Linked DNA regions of Homo sapiens. The protein of the gene in region 1 interacts with the protein of each later gene in a pairwise test. Each region holds a gene or a part of one and is shown in the gene's direction. Other genes may lie near its edges.

Region 1 (7,569 bases):
TCCATGAAAATAGGAGCCATGTTCGTCTTGCACACTCTTCCATCCATAGTGCCCAGCACTAACAGACTACTTGACAATATTAAAGAAATCATGAAATCATAACTTCACAAACTCTTGTTGTCATCAGGCCATCTGGGGTGATCTAAATGACTAGGAACAGGACCATAGGGTAGGACATGATATGGAGGGACAGGACCACCCAACCCTGGCCCCCAGCCCAAACTACTCTGGCGTGGAAATGCTTTATTCCTAGGATGAGAGTAGAGGGAAAAGACGGAGGGGTTCCCAGGTGGTGTAAGTGCTTCCTAAGGACTGCCCTCTGGGGTCTTGGGGTATTGCAGGCTTCTCACACCCCACCACCCATGGGGCCAACCGCTCGGCCAGCCACACTGTCCTCAGAGTGTTCCCAGCAAGGTCAGCAGAGACCCAGCAGGTGGAGGAAATAATGGGAGAAAAGAGTTGAAGGTGGGAGTGGGGAATGGGTTCACAATGCATTTGTTCAGGGATCTTTACTCATTCTGTGATGAAGAGAAGGTGACAGTTCACTGGCTCCCTGGGGGTCTAGGAGACTTGGGCTTGGCTGAAGAGGGACAGACACTCAGGGCAGGGCTCCATGCCATCAGCTTATCAGACAGCCACCTTTCTCCTTGAAGGGATTCTTGTCCTCAGGGATGCCTTTGAGAAAAGGATCGTTTCCTGCTTGGGCCTCCACGTACTCCTTGATTTCCTTTCCCGCTTTGGAAATCTGCGAGAACACAAAAAATGTTTTAGGTCCTTGTTACTGTCTCTGGGTCCATGATTTGGTCAGTGCCAGAAAAACAGGCTTCTGGGCAGGGCAGAGACAGGGGCCAAAGAGGAGAAAGACACAGAGGACAGACAGGTGTTCGGGGGTGTGAGTTCCTTGATCTGACCCACAACACTGACCCTGACCTTCATGGGCTGCTTGGCCAGAGCCAGCCCAGACACAGGGCTGGACACGCTGAGCTCTCCAAGGCCCTGAAGCTCTCTCCTGTGCTCAGGGAGGCTGGCACCTTCACAGGGTCAACCCCAGCCTTTCTCTGCATCCTACCCCATCCCAGAGGTACCTCCTGCTGCTTCTGCAGCCCTGGAACAGTCCCACCACCCTTTCTGGTCACTTCCTCCTTCCCGGGGCTCATCAGGAACAGGAAGGGAAGAGCAGGGACGGGGCGAGGAGGCTCACCGGAATTCTTGTGTTTTTCACTTCTTTCTTCAGCTGCTCCACCTCCATCTTCAACAGGTCCTTCTCGCTGAGATCCTGGGCCATCCTGCCCTAGACAGACCTGATCCTGGAAAGGATTCAGCAGCCAGGATCATAAATCTCATCAGCTCTTCCAGCTCCCTCCACACCTCGACTTCTAGCATCTTCCCTGCCATATCCCTCAGTTCAGGCCCCTCATCATTCAACAGATATTCACTCCATCCTTGCATGCCCTGCTTCTTCAAGAGTCTGGGCTCAGGAGGGGAGGAAGCTCCCAGTCTGATGGGGGAGGCACCATTTTTGCCTTTGGATTGTCTGTCTATGGAGGAAATTTGGATTGTCTGTCTATAGAGGCATCTGTCTGTCTGTCTACAGAGGAAACAGAGAAGAAAGAAAAAGGAGTTTCTTTCAGAGAGGAAGATCTGGGAAGCAACGTTATTGTTTCATATAGTGACTCAGAGTTTTCCTCTTTCTCTCCAGGTCCAGCAAGGGAGAGTATACAATAATGGTCAAGAGAAGGGGGTCTTGGCTGGGCGCGGTGGCTCACCCCTATAATCCCAGCACTTTGGGAGGCCAAAGTGGGAGGATCGCTTGAGCCCAGGAGTTCAAGATCAGCCTGGCCAACATGGCGAAACCTCGTCTCTACAAAAGATAGAAAAATTAGCCGGGGTGATGGTGAGTGCCTATAATCCCAGCTACTCGGGAGGCTGAGATATGAGAATTGCTTGAACCTGGGAGGCGAAGGTTGCAGTGAGCTGAGATCATGCCACTGCACTCCAGCCTGGGTAACAGAGAACAACTGTTTCAAAAAATAAAAAAAGATCCCAGGCACTGTGGCTCATGCCTGTAATCCCAGCACTTTGGGAGGCTGAGACAGGCAGATCACCTGAGGTTGAGGGTTCGAGACTAGCCTCGCCAACATGGTGAAACCCCATCTCTACTAAAAATACAAAAATTAGGCAGGCGTGGTGGCGGGCACCTGTAATCCCAGCTACTCAGCGGGCTGAGGCAGGAGAATCACTTGAACCCAGAAGACGGAGGTTGCAGTGAGCCGAGATCACACCACTGCACTCCAGCTTAGGCGACAAGAGTGAGACTCCATCTCAAAAAAAAAAAAAAGAGAGAGAGAGAGACAAGGGGGTCTGGAGCTTACCAGACTCCAACTCTGATCTGCTGCTTCCTTACTGCTTTCTCAGTGTGGCCTTAGGGAAGTCACTCAACCTCTTTGAGTATTAGTTTCCCCAGCTGCAAATGGGTATTAAAAAAACCTACCACATGCAATTATTGTGGGTACTAAGAAAATAATGTCTATAAAATATTATAATATACTACCTGGCACATAATGAACACTTAATACACTTATTATTATCACTAATAATGCTATTGTTATTATTATCACTGCAGGGTTATCAGGAAGGCCTTCCTGGTGCCTAGCCCCAGTGATACTAAGAGTAGATCCCAGCCCAGTGCAACCTCAGCCCCTCTCACCTGCCACAGAAGAGCACACTCTCCAAGTCACTTGTCCTGGACTCAGGTAAGATAGTGTTTGAGCCTCCTAGTTCTTCATCAGCTGAAAATCTTCAGATAAAGCAGATGGCCTGGAAACCAAAATCTCTGATGCCTAAGCTGATCATAGGCTCAAAGTTCTAAGCCCATCACCCGCTTGAGCCTTCAAGCCCTCACTACAGCAGAGCAGAGAGACAGACATTCTCCCCACAAAAACAAACGCGAAAACAGAAGCCACCTTTTCACCACCTTGCCTTGCGTTAGCCTCACACTTTTGGTGACCTCACTAGCTTAGAGCCCGCAGCGCTTCTATTTCTCCACCTCCACCCTGCAGCCCCACTTACCCCGCTTCGCCTGCTTTCTCCTCCTTCCCTTCCCACCTCTGAGCATGCTCTGAGGCTGTCCTTCCTCCTGAGGCAAGTCCTAGACCGGCCCCTAACCTCCTTAACCAAGATGCTTTGTGTTGCCCATTGGATCCCCACAGTTTCACCTTACGAAGTTCTCCTAGCTCACTCTTCATCCACTCATTCAATAAAAATGTCCTTGCTCACCAAGCTGTGCCACTTAGTACTTGGGGCGTGGCCACCTCTAATGCCTCTGTTCAAGCTTCTTTGCTGCCATGCCTCCCTCTGAGCCCTGAATGTGGGTTCCTGAGCACAGAACCCACATCCTGGTTTTTTTCTTGCTGTCCCCCCAGGACCACCCAAGGGCTATGCCATTTAACAGACATTGAGCTCCTGCTCTGGTTGACACCCATCCAATGACAAGGGACCCGCTGGAGGAGCAAAAGTTAAGGGACCAATATGGTCAATGGGAGGTCCTCTTATTCTCCTGTCTCTAGGATGACAGGCTTGGTGGTGGGAGGGGCAGAGAGGAGGCCCGCCGTCCATCCTAACTTCCGTGCTCCAGGACCCAGTCCAACTCTCAGCTGGGAGCTCTAAGAATTTGAAATCAGAACAGGATCCTGGAGGTTGTCTGGTACAACTGTCCTGTTAATGCGTGAACCACAGCCCATACCTCCTAGGCAGGCTCAGTGCTCTGTCCACCGCTGCTTCCTAAAACCGCAAGTTGATCTGAAATTTGAACCTGGTGCTTCTCAAATCCAAGTCCTTCCTGTTGTCTAATCTGAGTCCCTCACATTACGCTTGGTCAATTTCATCTTGTCCTGCCTTCATCTGCACAGAGCGTGTAGGGCAGATCTTCATCACACACAACCCTTCGCAGGCTTGCTAACACCCCTCTGGCAACCTCTCTGGTCATGTCTTCCCGGTGTCCAACCCTGACCCCTCTTGCTGCCGCATCGGCTGTTTTCTATTTTTGCTGTGCTGCTGCCCCACAGTCCTCTGGTATGACGGATCTCCATATCCTATCCACCCTCCACTCCCCTGTCCCTTGGTGACTCATCCCTGAGCTTCCCAAGGAAGCCCCCACCCTCTGCCCTTTCCTCCCGCCTTCCATGAGTGGAAAATCCACCTCCGCCCCCTATAGCAGGCCAGCCCCCTTCCTCCCCAGTCTCCGACCCCATCCCCCAGCCGACCAGTTTCCTCTCCAGGACCAGGGAGCAATCACAGCTGCCCCGACCTTGGCTTCCTCTGCTGGGTGGGATTGGGGGCTGGGCCCCCAAATGGGCCCCTGGCTTCCCCCTTCCTCTGGGCAGGGGACAGAGAGACACAGGCTCGGGGAGCAGGACTGACTTCCTCTTGTCCCGGAATGAGCATGCCTGCCCTTTGCAAGCAGGTTTGGGTCTCACGCAGAGGAAACCAAAAGCAATAAGAGGGAGGGAAGGCAGAGCAACCAATCAAGGGCAGGGTGAGACTCAAAACGAGCGGGCTCCCTGGGGAGCCAGACAGAGGCTGGGGGTGATGGCGGAGCTACAGCAGCTGCAGGAGTTTGAGATCCCCACTGGCCGGGAGGCTCTGAGGGGCAACCACAGTGCCCTGCTGCGGGTCGCTGACTACTGCGAGGACAACTATGTGCAGGTAGGTAGAGCGGGCGGAAGCCTGACACCCCAGCCCCCGGAGGGGGGACCCTGAGCCCTGCCCCAAGTGGGGCCCTGGGACCCATCCTGACAGTGCTTGTCCTGGGCCTTGGCTGAGAAATCCTCCCATTCCAGGCTTCGGCTTCATCCCAGACCCCAATACTTAACCCTGACCCCATACTACCCAAGCCCCCACTGTGCCCCTTCTGTCTCTCAGAGCCTCAGAGATGCCTGGGACAGACAGTGCGATTCCATCCTGTTCTCAGGTGTCACCTCAGGTTCATCCTTCTGAGTTCCCACGGGTCAATCCAGAGACCCAAAGCCTCCGTCCTCACACAGATGCTGGCGATCATTCTATTTCCAGGCCGGCTCTGGGTGAGGCTTCAGAAGAACTTCCCAAACAGCACAGTGAACCTGAGATGGACAAGGGAAAGGGGCTCTTTCCCTGAGTTTGGGAAAGGGAGAGTGGGGATAAGGCAGAGTAGGCTGGGCTAAAGAGAGGGGATCTCATGCAGAGGCAGGGGGATGGCCCACATAACTGCTGGGAGCAGGCTTCTAGCAACAGATAGGGAGGTGGCATTGTAGAACAGGTTTTAAATTGTGTGGTTGTCCTGGGGCTGAGAACATAGATTCCTGGATTCAGGGAGGAGAGGCAAGGCAACTGAGCCATGATGGAAATCACTTCTGTTATTTCATTAATCTGTACAACTACCTTGTGAGACATGTATTATAATTCCTATTTTACAGATGTGGAAACAGTAGCTCAGGGAGGTGAGGTGACTTGTCTAAGGCCACACAGCTCCAAACAGCAGAGCCAGGCATTCCTTTTTTTTCGCTCTTGTTGTCCAGGCTGGAGTGCAATGGCTCGATCTTGGCTCACTACAACCTCCGCCTTCCGGGTTCAAGAAATTCTCCTGCCTCAGCCTCCTGAGTAGCTGGAATTACAGGCATGCACCACCATGCCCGACTAATTTTATATTTTTAGTAGAGACAGGGTTTCGCCATGTTGGTAAGGCTGGTCTCGAACTCCTGACACCTCAGGTGATCCACCCGCCTTGGCCTCCCAAAGTTCTGGGATTACAGGAGTGAGCCACTGTGCCCAGCCAGCCTTTTTTTTTTTTTGACGGGGTCTCCTCTGTCACCCAGGCTGGAGTGCTGTGGCATGATCATAGCTCACGTAGCTTCACTGAAGCCTTGAACTCCTAGGTTCAAGCAATCCTCCCACCTCAGCCTTCTGAGTAGCTGGGGCTACAGGTGCATGCCACCATGCCTGGCTAATTTTTTAAATTTTTTTGTAAAGACAGGGTCTCCATATGTAGCCCAGGCTGGTCTTGAACTCCTGGCCTCAAGTGATCTGCCCACCTTGGCCTCCCAAAGTGCTGGGATTACAGGCATAAGCCACCACATTTGGGCTTCCCTGAATCCTGATGCCAAGCTCTTTCCTCTCCATCTTTCTGCCTCCCTACACGCTATGTGACTTTACGACAGTTTATTAGCACTCTCTGTCCCCGGTTTCCTCTGCTCCCTGAAGAGCTGCAGACTAACCTTGTTACCCCTTGGGCAAAACTTTATTTTTCTAACCTGTACTAACCAAACTATGAGAACAGGCACAGGGACCTTGTAGCATAGTAAGAATGTTGAAAAAAGAAGTAAATGAGTAACAAGTGCTCATGGGAAATGGCAGATTAAAGACAGTCAGTAATGACAGCAGTTAAAATGCTCTGGACCCTTCTTTTGGGCCAGGCATGTTACCAGCATGGCCTCCCTTCATCCTCATCTGAAGTCCGGTGAGGCGAGTCCCATGCCCACTTCACAGTGAGGAAGCTGAGGTTTGGAAAGGTTAAGTCACTTTCCCAGAAGTCTCCTAGCTAGTGTCAGAGCCTGAATTCAAACGCAGAAATCTGATTCCAGAGCCCACTCCCTATGCCACTAACTGAAAATGCTACTCTGGGTATCATTTCGGTCTGTGTAGATGTTGAGTGACCACCTGCAGATGAGACAGAATGAGGCTTGCAAACCAGCTCATTCTCCTAGCATGGAAAGGCATGTTTCCTCTATGGACAAGGATCCAAGCAGTCCTTTCCATTCCTTCCATAACTTCTGCACACCTCAAAGAGCTTCCACAGGGCTCTCATTTGCACACACAGTGTGCACACACAATTTGGGGTCGCAAAGACCTAAGTCAAATTTCCAGTTCTGCCACCTACCAACTACAGGAACTGTGGCAAGTTTCTCCTCTGATTCTCATGCCTGCCTTCAGTGGTGGCTCCATGGATTCAATATAAAAATGTATCAAAGCATTCAGCCTAGTGCCAGCCCCTTCAGAAGAGCAGGATAAATGGCAGCTCTTACAATGACCATCACTACCATTCATTGGAAGGATGGATAATAAGAATCAGTTCTAGGGAGGAGAAGCTGTCCTTGCAAAAATATGCAGGGCATGAGAAGCCCTGACCCAAGTTGGAATCCTTGGACTCCTGCTTCCTTCGTGCAGAGTACTAACTACTAGAACACACAACTTGTTACCTTTCCTGGCCTTTCTGAGGATCTTTATCTAGGCAAATGCCTAGGAAGGTTCTGGATCTCAGAACTTCTGTTACCTAAGGCCTGATTCCCCTACCCTCCAACCCCACCTGCAGCCCCTCTCTCCCCACACCACCCAGATGCTAGGAAACCCATGGGGAATTAGGGAAGGCAGACCAGGGTCACCTGCAGAGTTCTCAGCCAGGGTTGACTGAGTTTACAGACACGGTAATTTGCATGATGAACAAGCACTCAGCCGCAGAGATGGATCTCAGACACCTGTCCCTGCGGACCTAACTTTGGGCTAAGAGCAAAGCCAGGGGTCGGTAGGTGTTCAGGCTGC
Region 2 (7,023 bases), on another chromosome or scaffold:
AGTCTTCCTTCTCCTGCCTGAATGAACACTATTGAGGTTAGGACCAATAACTGAAGCCGTATCTTGGATGGAAAAGGTGTGTCTGTGTGTGTATGTGTGTGTTCTGCCTTACCTTAAATATTGATAAAAAGTGAAGAAAGATACCTCAACTGTTGAGATTCCGAGATCGTGAATGACAGACCATAGTGAACTCTGGAACAGCCATTTAAAGAATGAGATAGCTCTCCATATGCTGAGAAGCAGTGATCTCTGCTGGGTGCTGTGGCTCATACTTGTAATCCCCGCACTTTGGGAGGCCGAGGAGGGCGGATCACGAGGTCAGGAGATCGAGGCCATCCTGGCTAACACCGTGAAATCCCACCTCTACTAAAAATACAAAAAATTAGCCAGGTGTGGTGGCACATGCCAGTAATCCCAGCTACTCAGGAGGCTGAGGCAGGAGAATCGCTTGAACCCAGGAGGCGGAGGTTGCAGTGAGCAGAGATCGCGCCACTGCACTGCAGCCTGGCAACAGAGCGAGACTCCATCTCAAAAAAAAAAAAAAAAGGTGATCTCGTGCTCACTTCAGCAGCACATATACTAAAATTGGAACGATACAGAGAAGATTAGTATGGCCCCTGCGCAAGGATGACATGCAAATTCGTGAAGTGTTCCATATTAAAAAAAAAAAGGTGCTGTCTAAGATATATAATTAAGTGAAATCTGCAGAATAGTGTGCTTCCATTTGTGTAAGGACAAAACATGGAAGGGAGCCTGTGGATGCATAGGCTGGACATATAGAGCACCTTGGCACCCACGATGAGAGTCAGAGCTGGTGAGAGACTTAGTACCCTGTGGGGTTGTTTTCCCTTGTGGTTATGTGGCCTTAAACAAAACTCTCTCTAAAGTAACGTACCTGCTTGAAGTGCAGTGGTGAGCCTGTGTGTGAGGAGGCTATGCCCTCATGGCAACAGCTACCCTTGGCAGAATCTGAACATCTCAGAGACATGGCCTGAGGATCCTCATGAGTTGTCTCTGCCACGGTGTGGGAGGCACTATTTAGACCTCCATTTACTTGAAGCCTAGTGTTCCTCAGGAATTCCTACATCTGCCTGTGGGAAAATGGTGATAGATTTCAAAGGCTCTCCAAGGTTCGATGTTTCCTTCTGAGTGCCATTTCAGCAACATAGGAATTTCGGTCTGTTTCTCCAAGGTGAAGGGCTTTCATTGCCCTGTTGCCTCTCTGTGGACTTCTGGCCAGGTGGCCCTACAGAAAAGCACCTTATTCTTTCTTGGCAGATCCAGTCATGGCTCCTGCCTCCCACCATGAGTCGGGATATTGGGGAAGCGAAGCAGATGCCAGAAGTCTTTCTGGTTTCCCAGGCCGAAGGAGCTTTCACACTAATAGCCTGTCCTTTTCAAGTCTGACAGAACTGGCAAGCAGGAACAATTTAGGTTTTTGGAAATATCCACAAACTCTTTGCTTCCATCCGGAGTGAATGCTTCTCTTCCTTCACAGGGGCTACCCTAAGAGGCTGGGAAGCCTCCCAGCCTGGGCTAGTGAGATCCCAGCCCAGATTCCAGGCCTGGATCTGGGGCCTTGAACAATGAGGATCCTTGTATCTCTCCCACAGAGAACACCTTCTGCAGTGGGGACCATGTGTCCTGGCACAGCCCTTTGGATAACAGTGAGTCAAGAATTCAGCACATGCTGCTGACAGAGGACCCACAGATGCAGCCCGTGCAGACACCCTTTGGGGTAGTTACCTTCCTCCAGGTGAGGCACAGGTTGGACGCTGGCTCAAGCCTTCCTGTGGGAAGGGTCCTGGGAGGACAAGGAGGCTTGAGGAGGGGGAGTGAAGGGAGTGGGAGGTTTCCTTTGGCCTCGTCCTGATTTCTGTTTCCTCTGATGGTTTGTCAGGTAGATTCAGATGGTCTGATTTAACCTGCTGAGATGGGAGAGGGGAGAAAGGGAAGGGGGCATTTGGTTGGGAGAGAATGGCTGTAGCTGAGAGGGAGTAATGGGGTGGCGGGTATTCTTTGAACAGTGAAGACCCAGTCTCAGGAACAGGACTTTCCAGCGGGAAGCCAGCTCTGGGTCGTCCTTGCTCTTTGCCAGAAGCTGTGGGAACCTGCCCAGCTTTGACCAGTGCTTGTTTTTGGTCACGAAGTCTATGTGAAGGTTCCACTGATTCCCTTGATATTTACACAAAGGCCTATCCCCTAATAAGGAAGGGAGGAGTTTCTCTGCAGGCTGCTATGACCTATTGGTGGTGGTTCCAAGCCTGATAGGTCTCAAAGTCTCTTGTTTACATTCCCCATGATACCAGACTGGGTAGGAATGGCTCCCTGAACCTCCCCTACTTCCAGAGACATGGCCTGAGGACACATCTTGAGTTGCTCAGGCCTTGGTTTTCTCCTTTGTAGCTAAGAGCTAGACTTGGTGTCATCCAGACACAGCAAGGGCAAGGGTCAGGCCTCAGGGCCCACATGTGGACCCAGCCATTTCCCAGCCAGGCAGCCACTCCCTCCTAAGGGAATCATCCAATCTTGGCTGCACCAGCTCCTGAGCACAGATCCTGCCTGTGGTCTCCCAACTGGAGGTGACTCAGAGAGCCTGGGTAGCTGACCTTCTTGGGGTGGGGGGTGGCCATTAACACACAATGGGCTTTCTATCCTGGGCCTCAGATCGTTGGTGTCTGCACTGAAGAGCTACACTCAGCCCAGCAGTGGAACGGGCAGGGCATCCTGGAGCTGCTGCGGACAGTGCCTATGTGAGTACCCATGCAAGGTGGGAGCGCGGCTCCCTGGGCCTGGGGGTGGGAGTCCCTCCACTACCCTCCATGTGGGGCTCCCTCTTGCGTTGTTATTTCAGACCCTGGTTTTTCACATCAGGGCTTCCTGACGACTCACTCCCTGACAGTCCCTGACCACGAACTATTCCCCTGTGTCCTAGGCCTGGGGCAGCAAACAGGGCAGGCTGTAGGCCCAGCCCATCAGCCCCAGACCCTCAGTTACCATTGTATCCCCTTTCCTTGTCCACAGTGCTGGCGGCCCCTGGCTGATAACTGACATGCGGAGGGGAGAGACCATATTTGAGATCGATCCACACCTGCAAGTATGTCTTGAGTGAGGAAAACCTTTCTAGCACCCTGTGCCTAGGCCTCTTCCAAATAACACTGGCTTTCATCCTGGGAAAACAGAGGACCTTTATGTGTGAGTGAGTAGAAATATGGCATCACTTGGAACTTGTCCCCTGAATTCTGCAGAGCACGTAGGGAGCAGAGGTTTCAGCCCAGGAAAGCTAGTCCTCAGACATATGTATTTTGGCATTTTAAAAGGATATTTTTATTGTATGTAAATTATATATTGGCTTAAAAAATTAGATTGCCAGCAATAAAAGATAAGTGTAGTGGATATTGCTTGCTTGCCCAGTATTCATTCTCCTGCCTCCCAGACTTTCTTTTAGGGAGCCACCACGGCCACCACCGCCCTGTACCAGACAGTAGTGTAGGTGATACTGACTCCATGGCTCAGCTGCAGGAGTGAGGGCTGATTGGTCTAATGGTCCTATCCCCATTTTCGCCACATTTTCTATCTTGGACAGTCAGATGCAGAGCTCCTAGCCTGGAAAGATTGGCACCTTAGACACACAGGCTGGCAGCTGCCCACTCCCTGTGGCCCACCTGGACATTGTTTCAGTGTCATCTTTGCTGTTTTAGAAGCATTCCTTTGTCATGCAGGTAAAGTTTGAAAGCCACAAGAACGTAACTGCCTTTTCTTTTTTTGAGACGGAGTTTCGCTCTTCTCACCCAGCCTGGAGTGCAGTGGCACAATCTCGGCTTACTGCAGCCTCCGCCTCCCAGGGTCAAGCAGTTCTCCTGCCTCAGCCTCCCGAGTAGCTGAGATTACAGGCGCCCACCACCACGCCCAGATAATTTTTTGTATTTTTAGTAGAGACAGGGTTTCACCATGTTGGCCAGGCTGGTCTCGAACTCTTGACCTCAGATGATCCGCCCGCCTCGGCCTCCCAAAGTGCTGGGATTACAGGTTTGAGCTAGTGCGCCTGGCCCATAACTGCCTTTCTTATGGGCTTCTCTTGAAGCAGGAGCCACAGACAGCTAATAATGTTACCTGCCTGGTGTCTGGCTCCTTCTACTCCCCTGACCAAATGCAGGTCATTGCCATCTCTAAACCTGCCATGCTTCTGTAAAATATCTGGTAGGCCACAGGCAGTTGCCGGGAGTTCCATGTGTTAGAGCAAGAGAAAGGTGGCAGATGGACATGTAGCCAGCAGCCCCTGAGTTCTTCACTGTAGACTTGTGAGTTCTTGGGCATAAATCCTCTTCATTCACAGATGATGCTCCTCTGTTTTCCTAGTGCCTTTAACACTGAACATTTCAAACTGCTGCCAGGATCCTCTGTTCTCTCTGCTTTAAACTTGGTTTCCTTGTATCTTCTGCATATGCAAGAACCAGGAACCAGGAAGGCTATCTTTCCCTAAGCCCTTGTTCTGTAGCCACACTGGGATCCAGCATGGGGCACTGTGGGCCGTTGTTTGGCCCCTGTCATAAGTGCCAAGTACTAAGAAAGAACCTGGTCCTTTGCACTAGTAGGGTAAACAGCTGTCCTTCCATGCCAAGGGCTGTTCTTCCTAGTCTGCAGGATCCCCTGAGAGCAGCCCACAGGACCCGGAGCACCTAGTGGTCTTTGAAAGCAAGCCAGGGTCCCACAGGAACAAAGGACAGCTTTCTTTCCTGGTGGCTCTGTGCACCAAGTGTGAACTCCTCTGTATTCACTGTGCCTTTCTGGGGCCTGCTTGCTATCAGTCTCTTTAGAGCTGGCATATATTCCTGTGATTCAAGCTCTACACTAACCAGCTGTGTGCCCAAATAAGTCCCTCGCCTTCTGGGTCTTAACTTTTTCTTTTTACTTATAAAGTAAATAGCCCAGACAAGTTGAGCCAAGAATTGTCTGTCTGCAACTCTTTACCTAAGTGAGGGACCCCAGGGCAGCCAGTGCAGAGGAAAAAGCTCAGACTATCCCCTGAGCACACCAGGGTATACATGCTCCCTGCCCAGAGTACACAGAGCGCTTCCCTGCTTAGCCTCTTCCTGCTCGGAACCCACAGCTTTGCCCAGGCCAGCATTAGCACTTGAAAGGAGGAGATGACTGATGGGAAGGAGGCGTCTGGGGCAGAGCCACTTGCTGACTGGTCCCAGGAAATAAGGACAGTACCTGTACTTCTCCCACATGGGGCTTCTGGGCTGATCAGCAGGCCAGTGTGGTACCTGTGGAGCCGGGAAGCACAGATTATTGTTGAGATGCTCAGTCACAAGCTTGATTTGGCCCACATGGACATAGAGCCTTCCAGATGACTTTTAATTCAAGGTCCAGCATCAATGAACTGTGTTTTACCAGAAAATCCAGGGATGTTTTGAGTACAACTCTTCCTTGAAGCCATTTGGAGAGTGTTTGTACTCAGCAGTACCAAGGCCTGCACAAAGGCAGGGTCTCGATGGGGAGAGAAGGGTGTCTGCAGATAGTCACTGCACTCTAGGCCCCCATTTCAGTCTAAGAAATGGGAAGGAATCTCCATCCAGAGTCCTTTGCTAAACAAGGGAACCAATGCATCTAGGGAAGTCCAGCCTTTGTTCTCCAGTGGCTCTTCCCTGTGTGACCACACCCTCTAGCTGTTAGAAGGGGAAACTGCAGGTGTGGCCTGTTGCCTGTGGCAGGCTTCCACCCTGTTTTCTATAGCAGTGACTGGGAGGTTCTGCCTGAAGATCGGGAGGAGAGGAAGGATCACACCTCTCCTCAGAGAAGTAGGCTCTCTCATGGCCACATCAGCCCCACCAGCCAGCGTGGCGGGGACAGGTTTGGGGCTCTGAAACAGGTAGAGGCCATTGTGCTGGAAGGCTGATGGTAGAAGAGATGTTTCCCTTGGGATTTGCATTCCTCCTGGCTTCCCCTAATCCCTGGTTCCCCTGGAGGAGTCCAGGAGCTGGCAGAGACCATCATGCATTGGTAACCAGGGCAGAACAAGGTCAGAGATCCTGCTCTCCAGCATTTGTCCCATGCTCAGCACCACAAGGGCTCAGTAAATACTGTAAGAGCAGTGGCTGAAAGGGTGGTCACCTTGGGTCACCAGTTCTCTGAAAGAACTCTGGCTCTTTGGTTCTTTTCAAGCAGGAGAGAGTTGACAAAGGCATCGAGACAGATGGCTCCAACCTGAGTGGTGTCAGTGCCAAGTGTGCCTGGGATGACCTGAGCCGGCCCCCCGAGGATGACGAGGACAGCCGGAGCATCTGCATCGGCACACAGCCCCGGCGACTCTCTGGCAAAGGTGGGAGCCATCACTCAGCATTCCACCAGCCTTCCTCCTTCCTTTTCCCCAGGGCCTGGTTTCCAGTCTCTCTAGGATGGGTCTCTAACAAAAACAACCCATTCAATAGTTTATTTCCTGGCATGATTTAAACAGCAAGTGAAGTCTTCCAGCAGGGCGGAATTAAGGGAGCTTTATTGGCCCATTCCTAGTTGTGTTTCCTGTGTGTATTTCAAATGCATCACCAGCAGGCACCGTTGTGTTTTAGATATGCCCTTTGCAATCTGAGGTCATGGAGGTGAGTGGAAGCCTCAGAACAGTTACAGGAAAAGTCCATAGTCCACCCAAGTGCAAGAGAAAAGTGTCGGCCACCCACGGAATTGACACAGGGCCCAGCTCTGGCCTGAAGGCCATGCCAGATCCAAGGATCACTCTGGCCTCGGGCCCTCCCAGGCCTTCAACAAATGAGGCCTGAGTGTGAGGCTGGCTTGCAAATTGCCCACCTCCTGTCATATAGATACAGGGTTAGGGGCTGTGGGCAGGGCCTCTGGACCCACCGTGTTCCGGATGGGGTCTTTGGGAAGGAGGATGTGGCTGTCCTGTTGGAATCTCCCTGTGCTGATCTTGGCTACAGAAACAGTTGTGGTTTTTAGTAGAGGGCGTCCCCAGCTAACTGCAAAGGAGAAGCAGCCACTTACATATACATGTGTTGACAGCTT
Region 3 (7,765 bases), on another chromosome or scaffold:
GCTGTGTGATTTTGAGGAAGATGCTTTCCTTTCTGGAAAAGGGGAGAGGGACTCAATGAGCTATAAGGTCCCTCTGAGGAGTCCTTGGACAAAGGAGCCAGGCTGTCAGCTTTGGAGTGACCCAGGATATTCCGGGGACGGGAAGGTGGGGTCCCTTCAGCCTTTGGACCTTGTCCCTTGCCTTGTCCTTAACCCACCCATCCTGTCAGTCATGCCAGTGTTTCCTGAGCAGCCCCTGGGCCAGCCCCTGTCCTAAGAGTTCACAAGCTGGCAAGGACTTGGGAGCCAGTGTGGCACCCTGAGAGCAAAGACATAAGGTACCACAGAAGCCCTGCATCTGTCTGAGAGTCTGGGGTGGGTTCTAACCAGAGGAAAGGACCCTGGGCCTCCACTCCCTGGAGGAGTCCTTCCCCAAATACCGTGTTGCTGCACAGAGGTCCGGGCCACTGCGCTCTGCAGTCTCAGGGGCTGGGATGCAGTGCACTGGGGAGGCGTGTGCTCTGTCTCTTGAAGGGTGACCCCCAGTGCCATGCCAAGACCAGTGGGACTTCCCAGATCTCGAAGCCCCACTTCCATTTCTGTTGATTTGGCCGAGGCACCAGTTAATTTTGGTTTTCAGCAACCGCATCACACTGTTCGTCTGTTTATGGCAGCCAGGAGAAGTGGCAAGGGCCTGGGAGCCTGCTCCTGCCTAGTCGGTTTTTTGTTGTTGTTGTTTTTACGGAGTTTCGCTCTTGTTGCCCAGGCTGGAGTGCAATGGCACGATCTCGGCTCACCGCAACCTCTGCCTCCCGAGTTCAAGCGATTCTCCTGCCTCGGCCTCCCGAGTAGCTGGGATTACAGGCCTGCGCCACCACATCCTGCTAAGTTTGTATTTTTAGTAGAGACGGGGTTTCTCCATGTTGGTCAGGCTAACTCCCACCTAAGGTGATCCACCTGCCTTGGCCTCCCAAAGTGCTGAGATTACAGGCGTGAGCCACCACACCCGGCCCCCAGTCAGTTTTTTGGTTTTTTTGTTTGTTTGTTTGAGGTAAGGTCTCTCACCCAGGCTGGAGGGCAGTGTTGTAAACACAGCTCCCTGCAGCCCTGACCTCCTCGGCGCAGGCAATCCTACCCTCTTAGCCTCCTGAGCAGCTGGGACCACAGGCGCGTGCCACCATGCCCGGCTAATATTTTTATTTTTTGTATAGAGTTTCGCCAGGTTGCCCAGGCTGGTCTGGAACTCCTGAGCTCAAGCGATCCACCTGCCTCAGCCTCCCAAAGTGTTGTGGTGAGCTACTGTGCCTGGTCTGCCTGGTCTCTCGACATACCCCCTCCCCCAGTCTCTCTGGGCCTTGCAACCAGGGCACCAGCCCAGCAAGGCAGGCAAGAGGAGCCCCCGGACCTGATGCCTATAGCCTCCCATCTTAAGCCTCTGAAATGCCCTGTGAAATGGGAAGTGAGGCTCAGAGAAGTCACACATTATGGGCTGAGTCTGGGCCAGCAGTCTTGAGGTGTCTACCAGGATGGCACATTGCCCCATACCTCCCAAGTCCTCCCCCCAGCCTCTGTCGGGCTGTCCTCTGGGGCTGGGCTCAGGGTACACACTCCTCCAGGGCTATCAGGATTAAAATGGAGTTCTCAGCCTTAGGGCCACCCCAGGATTTCCTGGAAAGTCCTTTGGGCTTGGGGAGGGAGGTGAGGGAGTTTTTAGAGCCCCAGAGATCTCACTATGCCCCTAGCTGCTCTGGGTGGAAGTCCACACAGAGGGCAGCACCGAGGGATACTACAAACAGGCAATTTGTCAAAGTGTCTAAAATGGGATGTTTCTGCTCCTGCAGCCCCTGCTTCCGACCCCCGTTACCACCACCACTCAGCTGCTGACCTCCCTGCCCACATCCTGCTCAAGCCTTACTAGCACATGCTACCCAGACTGTCCCAGGCTTTCACAGACAAATCTGCACAGAGGCTGCCAGGCCCTCAAAGCAACCACAGGGGTTAAGGCAGAGCCAAGGGCCAGCATTTCTGGAGCTCCCAGGCAAGGCTGTCTGGGTCTGGCACAGCAGGAGAGCCCACGTGGGCTTAGGAGACTGTCAGATCTGTTTCCTAACTTGGCCTCTACCACTTTTCCAGCTGGGGACCTTAGGCCAGGGGCCTTGGGCTATTCACCTGTAAAATGGGGACAGTGATACCACCCTCACTGGAGGATATGCTATAGCACAACAAAAAGTCCCATTGTCCTAAGGCAGCTAGACACACACAGGGGTCGTTGGGGCAGGAATGGGGGTAAGGGGTCTTTCCATTCCTGACTTGGCAAGCTGAATAATGATGGTAACAAGAAACAACGCAAGGCACTTTATAAGCATCTTGCATCTATTAATTCACCTAACGCTTCTGTGAGGTAGGTACTATTATTTCCAATTTACTGAGGAGGATGCTGAGGTTCAGAGACGTGAAGTGTCCCACTTAAGGTTACCCAGCTAATGACAGCCACAGCCTGGCCAGCTAGCCTCCTCCACACCCTTAAGCTCTCTCTGTTCCTGCTGCCTGAGCCACTGTGACAGGCACACTGCCGGGTCCCAGAGGCTTTAGCAGGAGCCAGCTAAGACCAGCCTGGTAGAGAATGACCCAAGCCAACAGGCCCCTGGATTGGGGAAGGGCCCCACGAGGGGTTGGCTGGGGAGCTCTGAGGTACCCCTTCTGTGTCTGCAGTTTAGAAAGGCCATGATCCCAACACCCACTGATCAAAACTTCTGAGTCCGTAAGTCTCTGATTACAATTCCTTCTAAGGAACAGCCTATAACCCTAACCCAACCTTTGGGGAGTCCATCCTTCTATGATTCAACATCCAGGTGTGACAAGGGAGGGCCTAAAATCTACCCATCACCCAGCTAGGAGGCACAGCAGCCCCACCCGAATCCGACTCAAAGGCCCAGGGTGTCTCTCCTGCCCAGGACCCTTAGGTCTGGCTGGAGGGGAGTCTGGAGACCAGGGCAGGAGCGCGGGGCAAGAGCTCAGTTAGACTGATAATATGGCTCAGGTAGTTTCCACCACAGCTGCGGCTACAACCCACGTGTACTGACCCCTCACCAGGCCGGAGCTGGGGCTCAGGACTGGGCAAATCTAGGAGAGACAGAGGTGTAAGCCAAACCTTGCCTTCAAGGACTTTCAGACCAGCTACAGAACCAGACAAGCCCAGGCCCGGTGTGGTCTGGGCTGGAGGCTTGGCTGGAACAGAGCAGGGGCACCACATAGTCCAGAGACTTCCCGAGGGACAGGAAGGATGGCACCTGAGGTTCCCTTGCCATGCCACCCATAGTCACTGGCCAGCAGCCTTCCTGTTGGGAAAAGGGAGATGGGGGAGGGAACCTTGCCTGACATCTCATCCTGGCCTGAGCTTTGATCTTGGAGCCTCCCAACTTCCCACCAGGATTCCACACTCAGGTGGGCTCCCATCTGGGAGGCTCTGGCCATAGCAGGCAGCTGTTGGGTTCCCTTCTCAGCTCCTCCCACCCCCAATGAGTCCTGCCTCATTAGGGAGGAGAGAAGCAGCCAGTGAGTGTGCCAGGCCCTGGGCTAGGTGCTGGGAGTATGGAGATGTGTGGGGCCAAGGTCCTGCCTCTGAGAGGCGCCCAGTCTGCACCGGCACACAGTCTGCACCGGCACACAGTAGTGGCTCAAATAGTCTCAAACTAAACTGAAACTAACAAAGCAAAGTGCAGAGGGTGTGGCAGGACTCTGGGGCACACCCTCCCCTCTTCCCCACGCCTGCGGCTCCTGATGCCACAGGGGTGCAGGGTAAGGAGAGCCTACTGTTTCCTAAAGGCGCTCACATCTTGTAAAACCAGCAGTTATGGAGCACTTACTGTATGCCTAACTCTGTGTTGAGTGGAGGGCCAAAGAGGAGAACTACTGAGTTTGGGGGCAGTCAGAGCAGCACCTACATCATTGCCCTACAAGAAGGAAGGGGGACTGAGGCTGTTTGCCAGGAGGAATGAGAGGAGACGGGCTTCACAGATGGAGCAAACTGCCAGGAGATGTGGAGAACAGGGTGTCGCGAACCGCTCTGGGAGGGTTCCTGGTGGCTGAGGGGTGGCACGCACCTCCCTTAAAGGGAGCTGGCAGGGGTGTCTTGTCCACTCTGCAGAATGGGCAGGCCCAGGACAGCTGGCCCATCAGACCATTAGAAACAGCGAGTCCGGAGTTCCAGGGGCTTGTCCACGGCCACACAGCAGCCCGTGGCCCCAGGAAGCCAAAGCTCCCAGCCAGTCATCCAGTGGTGGGGGGTTTAGTTCCAGGGGGCCAGAGGTCCTCTGCGGAAGAGAGTGCAAGGCAGTATCCGCGGCAGGCCCAGAGAGGCCAGGACAGGTCAGAAAGGCCTACCCCTCTTTCGCTTGGTACCCTTTCCTCTTTGCGAGGGATGCAAAGGTTATTTATACTTCGGGTCTGCAGGCTGCGGGTGGGGCAGGCACCCCGCCTGGGGCGGGTTGCGGGCGCAGGGGCAGGAATGGGCTTACCTGCTTCCCGCCACCGGGGCTGGGCGGGGCGCTGCGGGGAGGAGGAGCCGGGCACAACCTGTGGACGGCCGCGGCCGGCGGACACACAGCAGCGGGGGCCCGGCCGGGGGTCGCCCGGGGGCCCGGAAGCCGGGGAAGAGCGAGGAAACCAACTTGGAGAGAGGAGTGACCTGGGGGCCGGGGGCGGAGTCGTGAGCGGGGGAGGAGAGAGCCGGCCGCCAGCAAGAGCCGCGCGGCGGCCCAGGAAGCGAGAGCGCCGCCCACCCATCCGGGGCAAGAGCCGCGCCGCAGGAGAGGCAGGCTGGACCGGGGGCTCCCCGGGCCCGCGACCCCCGCCGTGACCCCGCAGCCCCCAGCTCGCCCCCAAGATGATGAAGAGGCAGCTGCACCGCATGCGGCAGCTGGCCCAGACGGGCAGCTTGGGACGGTGAGTGTCACCCGCTTCCAGCCCCACTCTTACCCCGGCAGGACTTGAGGGGTCGTAAAAGGGTCGGGGGAGACGGGGGTGGGGGAGGCTGGGGACAGCTGGGCAGCCACCCTCTGAGCGGCCAGACTCCTGCTCTCTCTTCCTCCTCTCTGAACGCCGCCCCCGTCTCTCGGGCAGAGCTGGAGGAGCAAGGGTGGCCTTTGGGGGAAGGGATGCCCCCCCTTACCGGATTGGAGGGGGCTTCAGGCGGGAGAATGCTCTCTGCCCTAGGACGCTGGGACTTCTCTGCCTCCACGAGTCTCTAAGTGGATGGTCCTCCTGACCTCACTTGTCCCCTCTGGACAATGGGACAGTTCACCACCTCTGCTTGCTGGGCCGGGGAGGGAGGAGGGTCGATTAGGGCCACAGACCTGGGGCGAGGGGAGGAGATGGGTCCTGGCCTGGTGGGAGGAGGGGCCTGCCCCTGGCCTGCAGCGTCCCTCCCCCTCCCCCTCCCCCCAGCCCAGGGGCCTCCTGCTTCTGTCTCGTTTCTGCTTTTCCTGGACTCAGGTGGAAATATCCCCAGGTCTCCCAGCTCCCACCCCCAGCCTCTGAGCCGGTGGCACGGAGGCCGGAAGTTTGGGGAGCCTCTCAGAGCCTGTCTTCTCTGCTCCTCTTCCCCCAGCCTCAGGAGTTCCCCATTCTCTGGGTCCAGGGAGGGGACTGGGTGTCCAGAGACCTGGTTCTAGTCTCACACTGGCACAGATGCCTACATAGCCTGGACAGTCAGACCACCTTGCAGTGGGCCTTGGCATCCCCCATGTGTCCCCAGGTGGGGGCCAAGGGCCTGTGCACCCCTGCCCACAGCTGTAGTCCAGAGTGCTGTGTGACTGTGCCTAGGAGTCTGAGCTCCTGCACTTCCCGTTCTTGGGGCCAGCTAATACTCCTCATCCCGGGGTGGGCTGAGGATTTGGGAGTGGGCAGAAAAGAGGCTTCTGTGTCCCAAAGCTGGGCCCCGGGTGGGTCTCTCAGCCTCCCCTTTAGTTTCATCTGTCCGCCCTCTCTCAGGACACAGCCCTGGGTGGAGGAGGAAAAACCCATGTATCCTATTCCCACCCCCATGGAATGTGCTCCGACTGGGATGAAGCAACTGGGCCACCCAGGGCAGGCCTCAGCTGGGAGGGACAGTGGAAGCACTGGGGTCCAGGTGCCCTGCTGCGGGGAAGGGAAGTAGGGGGCGTTCTAACCCAGGCAGGCTCAGCAGAAGCACTCTCCCCCCCCCCCCCACCACTCCCCGCAGCACCCCGGAGACCGCTGAGTTCCTGGGTGAGGACCTGCTGCAGGTACGTGCCTGGGCCGGGCAGGTGGGAAGGCAGGCCTGTGCAGGCTGTCTCGGAGCAGAGGGCCGGGGCGGGGACGCCAGGTAGGGGCCTGGGTTGAGTCATTCCTCAAGCTGTTGGCCATGGGGTCCCCAGGGGACAGGAGAAAGTTTCCTGCTCAGGGGGAGACAGCCTCTCTTGATCCTTAACCTCCATACCTCCTTCCCAGGTAGAACAGCGGCTGGAGCCGGCCAAGCGGGCAGCCCACAACATCCACAAGCGGCTGCAGGCCTGTCTGCAGGGCCAGAGCGGGGCAGACATGGACAAGCGGGTGGTGAGTGGGGGGTCCCGGGAAGGAGGGGCCTGAGCAGGAGACTTCCATCCAATGGGGAAGCAAGGTCGGGGCTGGGGTTTCCTTGCCAGTCTGAGTGTCTGGCACCAAGGGCATGGAGACTGCTCTGTTCCAAGGCCCCTCTGGCACTGCACTCAAGAGGCCCTATACCTTCCCCATCACCTTTACCCCACTTCCCTGTGCACCAGTTCCCATAAGCCAAGGCCAGGCTTCTGACAGCACCTGAACTTCTCTGTCCAATCAGTGCGCAAGAGCAGGCTGTCAATGGGGCGGCCTCAGAGGGTTTCCTGAAGGAGGTAGCAATTGAGCTGGCTTTTGAGGGATACACGTTTATTAATCAAGAGGCAGCGTTTATTGGCTGATAACCGCCAGCTTGTTACTAACATATGAGTGCACTGTCTCATGGAACACTGGCACAACCCTAGGGGCAGGCATTGCTTTACACATGAGGAACTGGAGGCTCAGAGATAAAGTCACTTGTCCAAGGTCACATAGCTAGTAAGTGGCAGAACTGAGGTTTGAACCCTGGTCTCTGATCCCAGAGCAGGCATTCCCCGTAACTCCAGATGGGGTGGGAGTGTGGGGCCATGTTTTGGAATCAGTTGACAATTCAGTGTGGCCAAGGCAAGGAAATTGGGAGCCATAGAGCGTTTGAACTCAGCGGTGGCTAGGTCAGCCATATATACCCTGGGACAGGGGAAAGAGCTCCCGCTCCCATTCTCCCTCCACCTGTGTGACCTGGGGCAAGCTCCCTGCCCTCCCTGCATCTTAGTTTCCCAGTCTGCAGTAGGACTTGGTCATTCCTTCCTGCCCAGTCAAGTGGCTTCTGGGAAGAGGAAAGGGCACGCCAGATGGAGAGGGGCTCCATCCATGCTCTCAGGGAAATGTCACCCCCACCACGCCTTGTCATCTTGTTTCCACTCTCATCTGGGACTGTGGCCCTCCTGGGTTCCCTCCTCCCCTGCCCCAAGGGGCTGGCCTGGTGCTCAGGCAGGGTGGAGGGAGGCACGGACACTCATCGCCGGCCCCACCCTCCCTGCAGAAGAAGCTTCCCCTCATGGCTCTGTCCACCACGATGGCTGAGAGCTTCAAGGAGCTGGACCCTGATTCCAGCATGGGGTGAGCACAGACGGGGCCCAGCCCTCACCTGGGGATACCAAGACGTGATCTCAGCTGGGAGGGGGTCCAGGTG

Evidence for each region. The genes of interacting proteins can lie anywhere in the genome.
Region 2: the proteins of ABI3 (region 1) and SUFU interact in binary tests that used the Homo sapiens proteins (3 or more experiments, as listed by UniProt).
Region 3: the proteins of ABI3 (region 1) and SH3BP1 interact in binary tests that used the Homo sapiens proteins (3 or more experiments, as listed by UniProt).

The regions. Positions count from the first base shown.
Region 1 is NC_000017.11:49,206,138-49,213,706, forward strand, and holds the start of ABI3 (ABI gene family member 3), read left to right. Parts: upstream 1-4,569; 5' UTR 4,570-4,587; coding exon 4,588-4,704; intron 4,705-7,569. Other genes in the region: GNGT2 (guanine nucleotide-binding protein G(I)/G(S)/G(O) subunit gamma-T2), read right to left, coding at 620-745, 1,202-1,285. UniProt on the Homo sapiens protein: May inhibit tumor metastasis. In vitro, reduces cell motility.
Region 2 is NC_000010.11:102,590,969-102,597,991, forward strand, and holds part of SUFU (suppressor of fused homolog), read left to right. Parts: intron 1-1,613; coding exon 1,614-1,756; intron 1,757-2,667; coding exon 2,668-2,753; intron 2,754-3,024; coding exon 3,025-3,097; intron 3,098-6,168; coding exon of another isoform or gene 6,169-6,171; coding exon 6,172-6,325; intron 6,326-7,023. UniProt on the Homo sapiens protein: Negative regulator in the hedgehog/smoothened signaling pathway. Down-regulates GLI1-mediated transactivation of target genes. Down-regulates GLI2-mediated transactivation of target genes. Part of a corepressor complex that acts on DNA-bound GLI1.
Region 3 is NC_000022.11:37,634,924-37,642,688, forward strand, and holds the start of SH3BP1 (SH3 domain-binding protein 1), read left to right. Parts: upstream 1-4,745; 5' UTR 4,746-4,864; coding exon 4,865-4,923; intron 4,924-6,202; coding exon 6,203-6,245; intron 6,246-6,450; coding exon 6,451-6,555; intron 6,556-6,908; exon of another isoform or gene 6,909-7,615; coding exon 7,616-7,692; exon of another isoform or gene 7,693-7,765. UniProt on the Homo sapiens protein: GTPase activating protein (GAP) which specifically converts GTP-bound Rho-type GTPases including RAC1 and CDC42 in their inactive GDP-bound form.